Linked DNA regions of Homo sapiens. The protein of the gene in region 2 purifies or fractionates together with the protein of the main gene of each other region. This does not show direct contact. Each region holds a gene or a part of one and is shown on either strand. Other genes may lie near its edges.

Evidence for each region. Proteins that work in one complex are often made in the same cells at the same time.
Region 1: the proteins of IGFL3 (region 2) and FBLN1 purify together in Homo sapiens (affinity purification with mass spectrometry; one large-scale study listed by BioGRID and IntAct). This does not show direct contact.
Region 3: the proteins of IGFL3 (region 2) and LOXL3 purify together in Homo sapiens (affinity purification with mass spectrometry; one large-scale study listed by BioGRID and IntAct). This does not show direct contact.
Region 4: the proteins of IGFL3 (region 2) and LCLAT1 purify together in Homo sapiens (affinity purification with mass spectrometry; one large-scale study listed by BioGRID and IntAct). This does not show direct contact.

The regions. Positions count from the first base shown.
Region 1 is NC_000022.11:45,505,883-45,509,382, forward strand, and holds part of FBLN1 (fibulin-1 isoform D precursor), read left to right. Parts: intron 1-3,500. UniProt on the Homo sapiens protein: Incorporated into fibronectin-containing matrix fibers. May play a role in cell adhesion and migration along protein fibers within the extracellular matrix (ECM).
Region 2 is NC_000019.10:46,121,889-46,125,859, forward strand, and holds the start of IGFL3 (insulin growth factor-like family member 3 precursor), read right to left. Parts: upstream 2,801-3,971; 5' UTR 2,762-2,800; coding exon 2,737-2,761; intron 2,434-2,736; coding exon 2,380-2,433; intron 2,269-2,379; coding exon 1,998-2,268; intron 1-1,997. UniProt on the Homo sapiens protein: Potential ligand of the IGFLR1 cell membrane receptor.
Region 3 is NC_000002.12:74,534,351-74,536,942, forward strand, and holds part of LOXL3 (lysyl oxidase homolog 3 isoform 1 precursor), read right to left. Parts: intron 2,579-2,592; coding exon 2,359-2,578; intron 2,122-2,358; coding exon 1,941-2,121; intron 1,801-1,940; coding exon 1,646-1,800; intron 1,406-1,645; coding exon 1,238-1,405; intron 1,105-1,237; coding exon 942-1,104; intron 425-941; coding exon 181-424; intron 82-180; coding exon 1-81. UniProt on the Homo sapiens protein: Protein-lysine 6-oxidase that mediates the oxidation of peptidyl lysine residues to allysine in target proteins.
Region 4 is NC_000002.12:30,520,246-30,523,745, reverse strand, and holds part of LCLAT1 (lysocardiolipin acyltransferase 1), read right to left. Parts: intron 1-3,500. UniProt on the Homo sapiens protein: Exhibits acyl-CoA:lysocardiolipin acyltransferase (ALCAT) activity; catalyzes the reacylation of lyso-cardiolipin to cardiolipin (CL), a key step in CL remodeling.

The sequences.
Region 1 (3,500 bases), on a different chromosome or scaffold from region 2:
TGCTTCAGCCTCCCCAGCAGCTGGGATTGCAGGCGCCCATCACGCCCAGCTAATTTTTGTACTTTTAGTAGAGATGGGGTTTCACCATCTTGGCCAGGCTAGTCTCGAACTCCTGACCTCAGGTGATCCACCTACCTCGGCCTCCCAAAGTGCTGGAATTACAGGTGTGAGCCACCGTGCCGGCTGGCAGCCCTGTTATTAATGTTAGCTATTATTCCTGTTGTCCCCTTCTCTAGGAAGTGTTGGCACCAGGAGCCTTCGCAGCCCTTGGGGGCTCCCTGGCGGCTCCTTGGAGGAGATGAGGCTTGATGTGAGGGGAGCGCGGGAAGAGCGCAATTCTGCCAATACCCCAGAATTGTTTTCCCCAAGATGCCTCTGCACATTCTACTACTACTGAATTTCCCAGCCAGGCGCTGAGCAGAAGGCCCCATGGGGCTATAGGACTGGTAGTCGTCAGTGCCAAACCCGTGTCAGGAAAGGTGGTGTTCTTAGCCATTCAGTCATTCATTCACTAAGGGACAGCTCAGTGCCAGACACTGCTCTATAACTTGTGGATGTGGCAGGAAAGGAGAGAGACCCAGTTTTTCCCCCTCATGCAACTAGGAGATCCAGAAAAATGAACTGAGCCCTACTGGCAGAGTCAGGGAAGACTTCCCGGAGGAAGCGGCATGCAAACTGGGAACCTAAGGAGGAAAAGGCAGTGGCTAAGTCTGTGGGTAGGGCTGGGAGGATGGGGGAAAGGGTGTTCCTGGCAGGGGAAATGGCAGGGCCAAATACCTGGAAGGAAGAGAAAACACGAGACTTCCAGGGAAACCCCCTCCTTCTACCCACTTCCAGTTCCTTCCAGTTCCACCCCCTCCTCACCACTGGGGGAGACTGTGCTGTCTAGAGACTTCTCCAGCAGCTTCCCTGACCTGGTGAGACTTTAAGCCCGGGCTCTGAGCACTGGGCACCTGGTCAGGGCCGCCTTCCAGGTGAAGTTTATTAGAACAGTTCTAAGAGGGCATGTAGTTATTTTGCCAGCATATTTTATACAACAAGATTTTCCTTTTGCAGAATAGCAAATCATAACAATTTGATGAATGAATCCTTTCGTAGGCCCCATATGGTTCCAGTTTCCTTGTGATGATCTCACATGTGGCCCTATAAGTAAACAGGGTGGGAGGGGGGAACCACTGTGTCAACTTCCCTGGGATAGGAGACCCCCTCAGGCTGGAGGGGAGCTCAGGACTGGCTAAGTCATCTGCCACAAGTCACCCAGCGAGGAGCGGGGCTGGGGCTGGGCCTAGAGCTGGGCTGGGCCCCACCTCCTTTAACCCCACAGTGGTCCTAACTAGAGGCTGGGGTGGGAGGGAGCGAGGCACCAGTCGCCATAGCTTCCTACAGGTTATTTGCGGGTTACTACACTGTGCGGAGCCAACATGAGAAGGGGGTTAGGAAGCTGTGTGTTGGTCCCAATTCTGAAAGTGTCTGGAGAGATCTTGATGACACCCACAAACTCTCTGCCTCTGTTTCCTTCACTATAAGATGTGAGTGTCCTCTGGGTAATTATTATAGGTGAAATGCTTTACATTTAGTAACCAATGTCGTCATCTCAGCAGCCCTACGAAATAGGTGATCCAGTGTTGTTTTGAACCTATTTTTATTTTTTATTATTATTTTTGAGACGGGGTCTCACTCTGCCGGCCAGGCTGGAGGGCAGTAGTGTGATCTCGGCTCACTGTAACCTCCACCTCCTGTATTCAAACCATTCTCCTGCCTCAGTCTCCTGAGTAGCTGCGACTACAGGCATGCGCCACCACACCTGGCTAATTTTTGTATTTTTAGTAGAGATGTAGTTTCACCATGTTGGCCAGACTGGTCTTGAACTCCTGACCTCAAGTGATCCACCTGTCTCGGCCTCCCAAAGTGTTGGGATTACAGGCGTGAGCCACTGCGCCTGGCCCTGTTTTTCATTTTGGATCCTGTTACCCACTGGAGTGAAAAGGTCCTGTGAGTTTTGCTACCTAGGTATGAAGCCCGGCTTCTTGTTTTGGCCTAGAACTCCTCTATGGACCTGCACAGTGCCATTTCTGAGAGTCACTGATGCGTGTGATAGGTTGAGGATGGAAATCCAACACCTGTGCACCCAGCATGGTCTCCCCACAGCACGGGGACTCGAGCACCTTCCTGCCCCACCCCTGCCCCAGTTCACCTGTGTTACCTAGCTATACCCTCACCCTAGCCCTGCAAAGGAGGTGCTGTCATTGTCCCCCTCATCAATGAGGGGACATGGAGGCCCAGAGAGTCCAGGTAGCAAGACTGTGGGTGCATAGCTGCTAAGTGACAGCAGCAGGACTTGAGCTTGGGCAGCTTGGCCCTGACGTCATACCCCTCACCAGCACACTGGACAGCCTCGCGTATCTTTTTTTTTGAGACGGAGTCTTGCACTGTCTGGGGTGTGATCTTGGCTCACTGCAACCTCTGCCTCCCAGGTTCAAGCAATCCTCCTGCCTCAGCCTCCCAAGTAGCTGGGATTACAGGTGCCCGCCACCACGCCTGGCTAATTTTTTGTATTCTTAGTAGAGACGGGGTTTCACTATGTTGGCCAGAGTGGTCTCTAACTCCTGACCTCGTGATCTGCTCACCTTGGCCTCCCAAAGTGCTGGAATTACAGGCGTGAGCCACCGCGCCCAGCCAGCCTCACGCACCTTTAGAAGACTTGAATCTTTAAGTCTAGTTCAGGGGGGGATGCCTGTTTCCTTTGGAGTGTGATGGTGGGGTGTGTATGAGCTTTACAGTCAGAGCTGGATCTGAAGCCTGCCTCTGCAGAGGCTGCATGGCCTCGGGCAACTTGGTGATTCTCTCTTTGCCCCCACTTTATAGAATACCTAGGATCATGTGAGATCATTTGTGCGTTCATTCATTCACGGACATTTATTGAATGACTGCTTAGGGCAGGCATGGGGGCAGGAGGCAGAATGAGACAGTGTCTGGCTCAGACTCATGGCACTAAGTACAGAGTTAATTATTTGTGCTAAGTGCTGGGAAGCTCAGAGTACAAAGAGACCATGCAAGAAAGAAAACATATTTGTCCCATGTGCATGCGTGTATATGTGCATATGTGTGTGCATTGGCGGTAGTTAGGGAGGACTTCCTGGAGGAAGGGACCTTTGAGCTGGTGTGGCATGAACAAGCTGGCCTGAGGAGAGCAAGCGTCCTGGGACCCTCCAGCCTTTGAAGCTCCAGGTTCCAAATGCCAGGTGCAGAGGATGCATGACAGGTGGCCAGAGGGGTGAGAGGAACACCAGGGGAGATGCGTCCTGGAAGCCCAGGAGGCCCTTGGAGCAGGGTGGGATGTTGCAGAAGGATGAGGATGCCCCTCTGTGCACTGGGCTGATGTAGGAAGTTGCTGCCGGGGCCAGAGCTGCCTGGAGGGAACTGTGGGGAGAATGCTTCTCGCCTTCCCAGAGAGGTACCTTCTGCTCCTTCTCTCTTGCTGCCTCCTCCCGGCTGGTTCA
Region 2 (3,971 bases):
TGAGCTGATTTGCATATTTCTTTTTTAATGAAATTTAACTTGGCTTTTACTGCATTTTTAAAATGTAAAAATGTAAAAACAAACACAACATAGTATTTCAATGCTGTACCTTTATGCAAATGACTTCATCTATCTTTTTAAAACATGCTGTGATATAGCTAATGTTAAAACTGACACAGCTTCACTTTCTTCTTTTTCTCTGTACTGAAAGCTGCAGAAATACACCTTTAATTCCAAGACAATTTGGTTGAAGCCCTCAAAATAAAAAGTGTACATCCACTTCCATTGCCCTGACTTTCCCCACATTGTTGATTGTGATTCTCTGTGCCATGTTGGTAGATCAGGCAGGCTATATATAATTTGCACAAAACATCTTTAGCCAGGGTAAGGTTTTAGAAACTATCTTAAAAAGAAACTTGTCAAAATATTTTTGATATTTAGGACAAATACTAAATATTATAATTTTCTCCCAGCACATCTGTTTACACAGCCTAGTTAGCTAGCTGACCCTGTTAAAGATCAGCTTATGGAACAAATAGGTGAAGTCATTTCCTGAGCCAAAAGATACAGATAATAAATGTTAATAATAGCAGCAGACTAAAAACATTCCTTTTTGTTGTTTGTTTTCCATAGTCAACAGTTTTAGCACAAGGACTTTAGAAAATGACAGATTTTTTTGGTAAAGTTTACTGCCTGAAAAGAGTTTAATAAAGAACATCCAAGGCCTGATTGCTGTTATTCTGAATATAACTTTTAATTACTTTCTGTAAGTTACATTCGGTTACTGTCAGACAACTTACTGTTGCATGGAAAAATGCCCCAAAAAACTGCAATGGTTTACATACATTTTACATTACACGTATTACCTCTTAAAACCCCCAACAGAATAAAGTCTTAGCAAACACAAATTTTAATTTCTGAACACCCTTCCAGTAAGATTGTAAAGGTGGGAGGAAGGGGAGGAAGGACTTGTTTTTTGTATTCCTAGTCTACTTGATTAAAATGTAATCTTCCAAGGGTTTGTTTAGCTCACTATCCAGACTGCTAGGGTTATGATGAACATTATTACTTCTTTCCAGGGTAAAAAAAATGACATTTGAAAATAATGTAAATGCTATGACATGATTTTCCCAAGCATGACCTCAACTTGAAACATTAGATTACTTAAGAATTCTAAAGATTGGTATACCACCACTGCACCAGAATTTTTAATTATTCCAACAGCTACAGGAATTTTTTAATAGTTTTTTTAATTTTATGAACTTAAAGCTGAAGAAAATAACCGATTTAGAAACCATAATAAAAGGACAGATATTTAGCCAGAGATATCAGTTCCTCCTGAAAAAGGATACTGACCTCCTCTCACTGCAGTTTTTCTCCAGGTATCTTACTGATTTCAGATAGAATTTAAAATTCATCTTAAAAATAGAAACAAAAGGACTACTTAAACTGACATTAACTAATAAAAATATGCTCAAATTTACTGACAGAATCATGGACACTTCATACAATACTTAGACTCTACCAGTTTTAAGTAAAGTAAGGAAAAAATTATAATTACAAAGCCAGTCTTTCCCCTTGGGGAAACAAAAAAGCCACTTTTGACCAATTGTTCCCTGCATATACATATACTGTATATTATTATAAGCTTCTTCAGAGAAGCAAAACATCTTTGTCTTCCTGACACTGGATTATTTAGCATGTTTTTTTACATCAGGAAGGCAACTGCACTGCTTGCATTTTTCTACCAGCTGAGTGTCTGGTGATAGCTGGGTGCAAGAAGATTGTGAGTTATTTATGCAGGAGGACTGTTTGTCCTCGACCATGAAGAAAGGCAGACTTATAGCTTATCTGCTTCTTCTTTTTGCTTTCCCCTGCTGCCACCAGCCTGACTCTTTTGCCGTTAGAACTCCACAAACAGGAGTTCCTCTTCAAGCCCTCTGTATCCCTCATCCCTCCCTCATTCCTTTAGTTAAGAGCAAGGTAGGGACCTTTACCTGGTACAGCTCCGGGAGATGGGAGATAAGTGACACTGAGACTTCATACCCAGAACCCTCAACTTCACAAGAAACTTCTGCTGGGGGCCAAAAGACTCGGGACAGCAGAGCTCAAAGCAGGGCCAGAAGGTGCAGGTGGAGCCACAGCGGCGGGTCTCCTTTAAGGATAAGATGGCATCATCATAACAGCACTGCTCTGAAGGGTTGTAGATCTTGTTCCCACACCTGGGTGTCGGCTGGCACAGCCACAGTCCTGAGCCAACAGGAGCGTCTGGGGGCAGACATTGATGGTGTACATCCAAGGAAGAACAGATACTCAATTCCCAGTCTCTTTTCCCAACACCACCTCTTCCCTCCTCATTTTTCCCTGTCCTGTCCTTACCTGTAGTTCCTTTTGAACACTGGAGGAGGAAGACTGTTATCCAGCAGACAAGAGCTAAGGGAGAAAGGAAAAAGGTTGAACATGGAGCTGAGAATGTGACAAGTATGGAAAAAACAAACAAACAAACAAACAGAGGTTAGGGTGGTTTAAAGGTGGAGATTATCACTTGGGGCTAAGTCTGTATGGGATCCCGTTCAGGCAGGCCCTGAGCAGCACGCTCAGTCACCCTTTGAGGTGACTAGTAGGGCACAGGAGGCTGGAATAATGTTAGAGATAAAGAGGAATAAATCGGGTTGAGGTTTGGGAGCTGCACTGGGAATGAGATGAGATGATGTTTGGATTTGGGGTCCTACTTGCCCAAGATGCAGCATCGTGGCCTCATGCTTCCAAAGATGCTCTAGGAGAATTGAAGAAGAGTGGTAAAAGGCTGGAACTTATGGAGACAGCCTAAATGGGGTTGTCTGTTAACCTGGTAAGTTTACTGATTGGATGGCTGCTGATCATGCCACCTGCAGTCTCCCAAGCACATTCCTTGAAGATAACCAAAGTCTCCCAAGCACATTCATTAGTTTCTTTAAGGAGGAGACTGGGTGGCGTAAGGGACCACAGAGCCGAATGTTGCAGACTGACTCATTGCATTCTCCATATACTATTGCAGACCTCAGGGTGAATGAGTGTAGGTTGGTCCTACTCCAAGTTAGGCTTCTAAGAGTTTTCAAGCTCCGACATTGAGGAGACAGTGCCCAACTAAGCTCCAATCAGAGAGAATGCTTCAGCCACTTCCCCATCTGGTTTCACATCCTCCCCTTCCTAATACTTGCTTCTTCTATATTCCCCAAGCACGATGTCTCTGGAAATGTCAAGGGGACCGTTTATGAAGCCACTTTATTTTTTGCTCTGGAGTCATTAGAGTTGCCACCTGCTCTAGCAGTTGAGCCACGGCTCTGGAAACTCCAATAAAGGGGGTAGGGGTGGAGAATAGCAATGGCCCAAATCTCCTGGTGTGCTTGGTGTGAGGATTCAGAGACCTCCAGCATCTTAGTTACATGGTCAGGGAAAGTACTAAACACCTGCTTTTCATAATCATATTATATTAGTGGCCAATGATAAGTGATGTAGTACTTAGGAGTGTGTAGTACTTAGGTGTGCAGACAGAGGGAAGGGCAGGGCAAACTGAGGCCTGCCAGGCAAGTGCCAGCTAGGGAAGGGCTTGGACAAATTCAAATAATCCCGAAGCTGTGGAAAGGACCTCAGTCTTCATGGATGTGTGATGATTCAATCAGAAAATGTCTAAGGATTGGCCAGACTTTCCATCCTCCACTTGCTGGCACAGCATAGGGAAGAGTTGCTGACTTAAGTTCATCCAGCCTGTACCATAGCCTTTGAAATGGTTCTCCTTTTCTGAGCTTCATTCTTAGCTTCCTGTACATGTGCGGAGGTGTGGGGTGTGGTTTGGATGCACAAGGCTGCTCTCCCCTACCCCGGAACCTAAGAAGGCCAACAATGTGAAGATTCCTAGTGAGCCCAGGCTGTCAGCTTGTTTACTACCAAATGTTAAAAAGAAACGTTTGAGTTTGATTAGGTAAAATACA
Region 3 (2,592 bases), on a different chromosome or scaffold from region 2:
GCTTTGTGGCCCTCAGCCACCTTGGTGCCATTTGGGGTGAGGATATCATAGTGAGTGAAGATGTCCATGCTGTGGTAATGCCTGTGGGGAGAAGGGAACTTCTGTTTCCTTCTCTGCCCCCAGAAGGTTTGCCCCATCCCCCGTGGTCTTGCCCTTCTACTTGACTCCCTACCCTCTCACCCATGGCACTCGTGCCACACCCAGGAGTGGCGCCCAGCCTTGGGCCTGAAGTCAGCTCGTCCCAGGTTGTGGATCTGGGAGGAGAATCGGAGCAGACGCCGGTGACCATAGGGCCAGTTGGCTGAGCGGGCTGAGCTGGCCAGGCAGTTCTCTTCCGCAGCACAGTACAACATATGCAGGGGCCGGTCTTCGATGTAGGCGGTCTCCTGCACCAGTGCTGAGTGCAGCAACAGATCTGATGCAGCTGCACCAAGAAAGGAAGGGGGTGTTAGAAGTCACTGCTGACTTCACAGAGAGGGGTGCTTCCATCCCTCCCTAGTGTGTAAGACTAGTTTTTTGTTTTTGTTTTTGTTTGTTTGTTTGTTTGAGATGGAGTCTCACTCTGTTGCCGAGGCTGGAATGCAGCGGCGTGATCTTGGCTCACTGCAACCTCTGCCACCTGGGTTCAAGTGATTCTCCTGCCTCAGCCTCCCGAGTAGCTGGGATTATAGGCGCCTGCCACTGCGCCTGGCTAATTTTTGTAGTTTTAGTAGAGACAGGGTTTCACCATCTTGGTCAGGCTGGTCTTGAATTCCTGACCTCGTGATCCATCCGCCTTGGCCTCCTAAAGTGCTGGGATTACAGGCGTGAGCCACTGCACCCGGCGAAACTGGCTCTTTTATGGGGAAGAAGTGCCCCTCCAGATTACAGCCCCCTTTCCCTGCAAACGGGTGGCCCAGACACTCCCTTCCCTGGCATGCATCACCCCCTCCTTCACTCACTCTCAGAACAGATGACTCCAGCAGTGAAGCGGGTCCCTGTCCTCTTGCAGGTGATGTGGGTGCCATGATGGGCACACTGATCCAGGGACAGCTCAGTCCCTGTGCAGCGCACTCCACTCATCACCACCTCTGTTATATTCCCAGAGTCCCAGTACCAGGTCTCCTGGGGACATATGCAGATGTTTCTGTAAGGCCCAGGATCCAGCATCTTGGGCCAAGGGACTCATTCCTCAGCCCTCTGCCCAAAACACAGGCTTTGAGACAACAGCCTCGGCTCCCCTTTCCTTCCCACTCACCTGCAGGCCGTGGTTGGCGTAGCCCAGACCCAGTTGCCTACAGGCCACCATGGCCTCCAGGGTCCCCCAGTCATCCCCACAGATGAGGCCCCAGCGAAGGGGCCCAGGTCCCCCTATTTGCACCTCGACTCGCCCCTCATGTTGGCTGCGGCCCCCACTGAGTCGGATCTGTAGTGACACAGAATGGAAGCGCTGGAGAAAGCTTTGGGGTGAGGTAGTGGGAGTCTCTAACAGATGTGGCTGAAGCGTGACTCAGGCACATAATGGGCTAGCAAGTGATGGGTCAGGTGGGAGCTGCAGGAGGGCAGGGGCCTGGGGCAATGGGCTGGGGGCCATTGGACTGTAGATTGGAGACCAGACCTGGATAGGATGAAAGAGACCTCAACCAAGGTAGAGAGGATGACTGACCCTGGTCTCTGCCCCAGTGTAAGGTAGGTTGCACCGGACCCCGGCATCCTGGCTATGTGAACAATCCTCAGCTGTGATGTTCTTGTGGGGGCACTTCCAGAGGGAGAGCTCCTGTCCAGAGCAGCGAACTTCACTCAGGTGGATAGCACCCATGCCTAGGGCCAGATGGCAAAGATCAGGAAGTTGTAATTAAGCATATATTGTCTGCCCAGGGGACACCTAACCTTCCGAAGGAATATGCCCCCCAGGAGCATGTACCTCCTTCCCTCTCCCTCCCACCTCCATGCCACCTCACCCTGCCCCATGCGAGCGCCACTCAGAGCTTCTCGAGCACTCCCGAAGCCCAGCTCCCGACACACCACGCTGGCTGCATGCAGGTCCCACTTGCGGTCACAGACTGTGCCCCATGTGCTGGCCTTCAGGACTTCTACCCGGCCCTCTCCAGGGTGGGCGCCGCCCTTTAGACGGACACGGGCCTATAGAAGAGAGAAGTGCCCAACAGAGGCAAATGGCAACATCTGCACGGAGGGCTAAGCAGACCTGGGAGATGAGTGAGACTTTGGTGGAAGGGAGTGGGTGGTATCAGGTCTGTGGCCCACCCCCTGGAAGGCTCCTCTCTGTCCTCAAAGGTCAGGGCTGTGCTTAGTCTGGGGTTGCCAGGCTAGGGGTTCTCCACCTGGGGTGGGAAAGGTCATAATCACTGTCTCACACACCTCCCCCTGAGGCTTCGACTGTTGTTGCTTCTTCTGGCCACTGGATGCCGCGTAGACAGGGCCTGGCACACAGCTCACCACTGCAGGGCCCCCCCCAGGGCACCTGGCGGTGTCATTGGCACGATAGAACTCCAGGGAACAGAGGGAGAGGTGGGCCTCCGTGCCCACGCACGCCACCCCATGCAGACCAAAGGAGTGTTGCTGCCGTTGGGCTAGCAGCCTAGGGGGACAGGA
Region 4 (3,500 bases), on a different chromosome or scaffold from region 2:
CAGACACGCGCCACCACACTCATCTGATTTTTGTATTTTTAGTAAAGACACGGTTTCACCATGTTGGCCAGGGTGGTCTGGTTCTCTTGACCTCATGATCTGCTCGCCTCAGCCTCCCAAAATGCTGGGATTACAGGCGTAAGCCACTGTGCCCAGCCGACTATTTTTAAATTTCTACTGATACTTGACAGTACGTGTACAAAATCCTTCAAAGTACAAACTGAATAAATATCAACTAAGAGCTGGCTTTTTGCTAAACTCTAGACCTAAACTTTAAAGAAGTGGGGTAACGGAGTAATAATGGTAGAGAAAAAGGCCACTGGAAAGCAGCATGCTGAACAATTCCCAGAGCTCACACATGGGGCCTAGAGTGGTCTGTGTTACCACCTATCCTCAACTTTGTTTTCTCTGAGGCTCAGGTCCTCCTCTTTGCGTTGATGACACTATAGCTAGCTTCTCCCCAGAAAAAAAAAAAAAACCTACGAACATCTTAATTTGGTATTGTTAATGCCTACTTCCTTTTATACACCCACCCCGCCCCCCAGTCCTGCAACGCTGCTGCTCTGTTTGAAACCCTGTAACTACCGTTTTCTATCTACTGTTTTTTTTTCTGCCAATTAGTGATTAGCTAGCTCTGTTTAACACTCACCCCTCAACTCCCTGCAGAGCTACACTTCACGTTGTATCCATATATAATGCTTCCCTTATCAAGGCTCTGGCATGCTTCTTCCTCACCAATTTCTGATTTGATGTGATTAACAGAAAAAAAATAAATTAGCTATCATATAATAAAATATTTTCATTATGCAGTGATGAAGCTGAGGCTCAGGAGAGTTAAGAAGACTTTCCTAAATCCACACAACAAATTAGTAGCATCAAATCTTTTCTGCTTACTGCTTCTTCTGCTATATCATGCTCTCTTTCTCCTGCGAAGGGGCCAGAAATTAGCCCTGAAATATGTCTCTAAACTCAGACTTAAGCAGGTAGAAAGGTGTGTGTCACATGAATATACTGGGATTACTCAGACCAAATCTAATCTAAAATTACTTCTATCCTACTTCTATTCCTTCCCTTTCAATCATTTGTTGATTTTCAATGATTCAATAAACATACAAAGATATCCCAATTACCGTGTGCCAGGCACTATGTTAGTCATCTGGGGATTACAACAGTGAATATGACAGAAATTGCAAAGCTCTCACAAATCTGATGGTCTCTCCATCTCTTCCTTATGAGCTCCTATGTGACTCTGCATTTAATCCAGCCCTATTCTTTATCTTCTTCCAAGTCTCAAGAGTTTGATGGACAAACTTGGTTCCAAATTATGCTAGCTATACACTTATTTGGAATAGCTAAAAAAAAAAATTTTAAAACAATAAAACCACTGACAATACCAGGAGCTGACAAGGATATGCAGCAACCAGAACTTGCAAACATTGCTGGTGGGAATGCAAAATGGGATGGCCACTTTGGAAAAGTTTGGTAGTTTCTTAAAATCCTAAATATACACTTACAATAAAACCCAGAAATTCTACTGAATATCCAAGACAAATGAAAATGTATATTCACACAAAAACCTATACGTAATTATTCACAGCAGCATTATTCATAATTACCAAAAACTGGAAACCAGCCAAATGTCAGTCAGGGAGAATGGATAAACAAAACCGTAGTACATCCACACAATGGCATACTACTCAGAATAACGACAAACTACTGATCCATGCAACATGTTGAGTTAATCTCAAATGTATTATGCTGAATGAAAGAGGCCAGACTCAAAAGATATGATTTTAAAATCTTTTACTGGATTATTTCATTTATATGACATTCCAGACAAGGCAAACCCAAAGGATAAGGAAACAGATCAGCGGTTGGCAAAGATTACAAGTAGGGAGATGGTTTGACTACAAAGAAACAACACAATATAAGTTTAGGGGGTTGGTCCAGCGGTGGCTCATGCCTGTAATCCCAGCATTTTGGGAGGCCAAGGGGAGCAGATCACGAGGTCAGGAGATCGAGACCATCCTGGCCAACATGAGGAAACCCCATCTCTACTAAAAATACAAAAATTAGCTGGGCATGGTGGCGCGTGCCTGTAATCCCAGTTACTAGGGAGGGTGAGGTAGAAGAATCGCTTGAACCTGGAGTCAGAGGTTGCAGTGAGCCAAGATGGTGCCACTGCACTCCAGCCTGGTGACAGAGTGAGACTCCCTCTCAAAAAAAAAAAAAAAAAAAAAAAAAAAAAAAAAAGAAGAAGTAGTTTAGGGGGTTGAGGAAACTGTTCTATTTCCTAGTTAGGTCACATTACAGCAAAGCTGTCCTGATCCAGACCCCAAAAGAGAGTTCTTGGATCTCGCCCAAGAAAGAATTCAGGGTGAGTCCACGGTGCAACCTGAAACCAAGTTTATTAAGAAAGTAAAGGAATAAAAGAATGGCTACTCCACAGACAGAGCAGCCCTGAGGGCTGCTGGTTGCCCATTTTTATGGTTATTTCTTGATGATATGCTAAACAAGGGATGGATTATTCATGCATTCCCTTTTTAGACCTTATAGGGTAACTTCTTGACATTGCCCTGGCATTTGTAAACTGTCATGGTGCTGGTGGAAGTGTAGCAGTGAGGACCACCAAAGGTCACTCTTGTCGCCATCTTGGTTTTGGTGGGTTTTGGCCAGCTCCTTAACTGCAACCTGTTTTATCAGCAAGGTCTTTATGACCCGAATTTTGTGGTGACCTCCTATCTCATCCTGTGACTCAGAATGCCTTAACTGTCTGAAAATGTAGCCCAGTAGGTTTCAGCCTCATTTTACCCAGCTCCTATTTAAGATGGATTTGTTCCAGTTCACACATCTCTGACAGTCACAAGACTATACACATTTGTGAAAATCCATAGAAAGTATATTTTTTAAAAAAGTGAACTTTACTGTTTGTAGATTTTTAAATAAATTTTTAAAAAATTATGCTATGTATATAAAAATCTGACAATATTTACTATTCTCTTATAATACGGGGAATTCTAATTTTCTGGATTATTTCAACTATAGTAACACCTAAAATGTATATAGCTTTTAAAATATTTCAGGCACTGTTTCATATATTTTACATGCCGACCTGTTCACCAGTCACAGCAATCTCATAATGTAGGTATTTTCATTACCTTAATTTTACATATAACGATACTGAGGCAGCAAGGGGTTAAGGAACTTACTTAAGGCTACACAGCTAGTAAATAACAAAACTGGAACTTTAAGCCAGGTAACTTGGTGTCAGAGTCCACACTCAGTCTGAAATGTTACACTACGCTTCCTTTTCAAGCCATGTATTACATCTGTAGTTAAATATACACCTATTTTTAAATAGCCTATAAAATAAAGATGTTACAATTATAAACTAAATTTTTAATACCTCATACAAAACTTATTCTGAATTTTAGAATTTATACAAACTTAGTGAGATAGCCTTATGTCTTTCTTATCTTACTGTTACTGGCAGGTGTTTG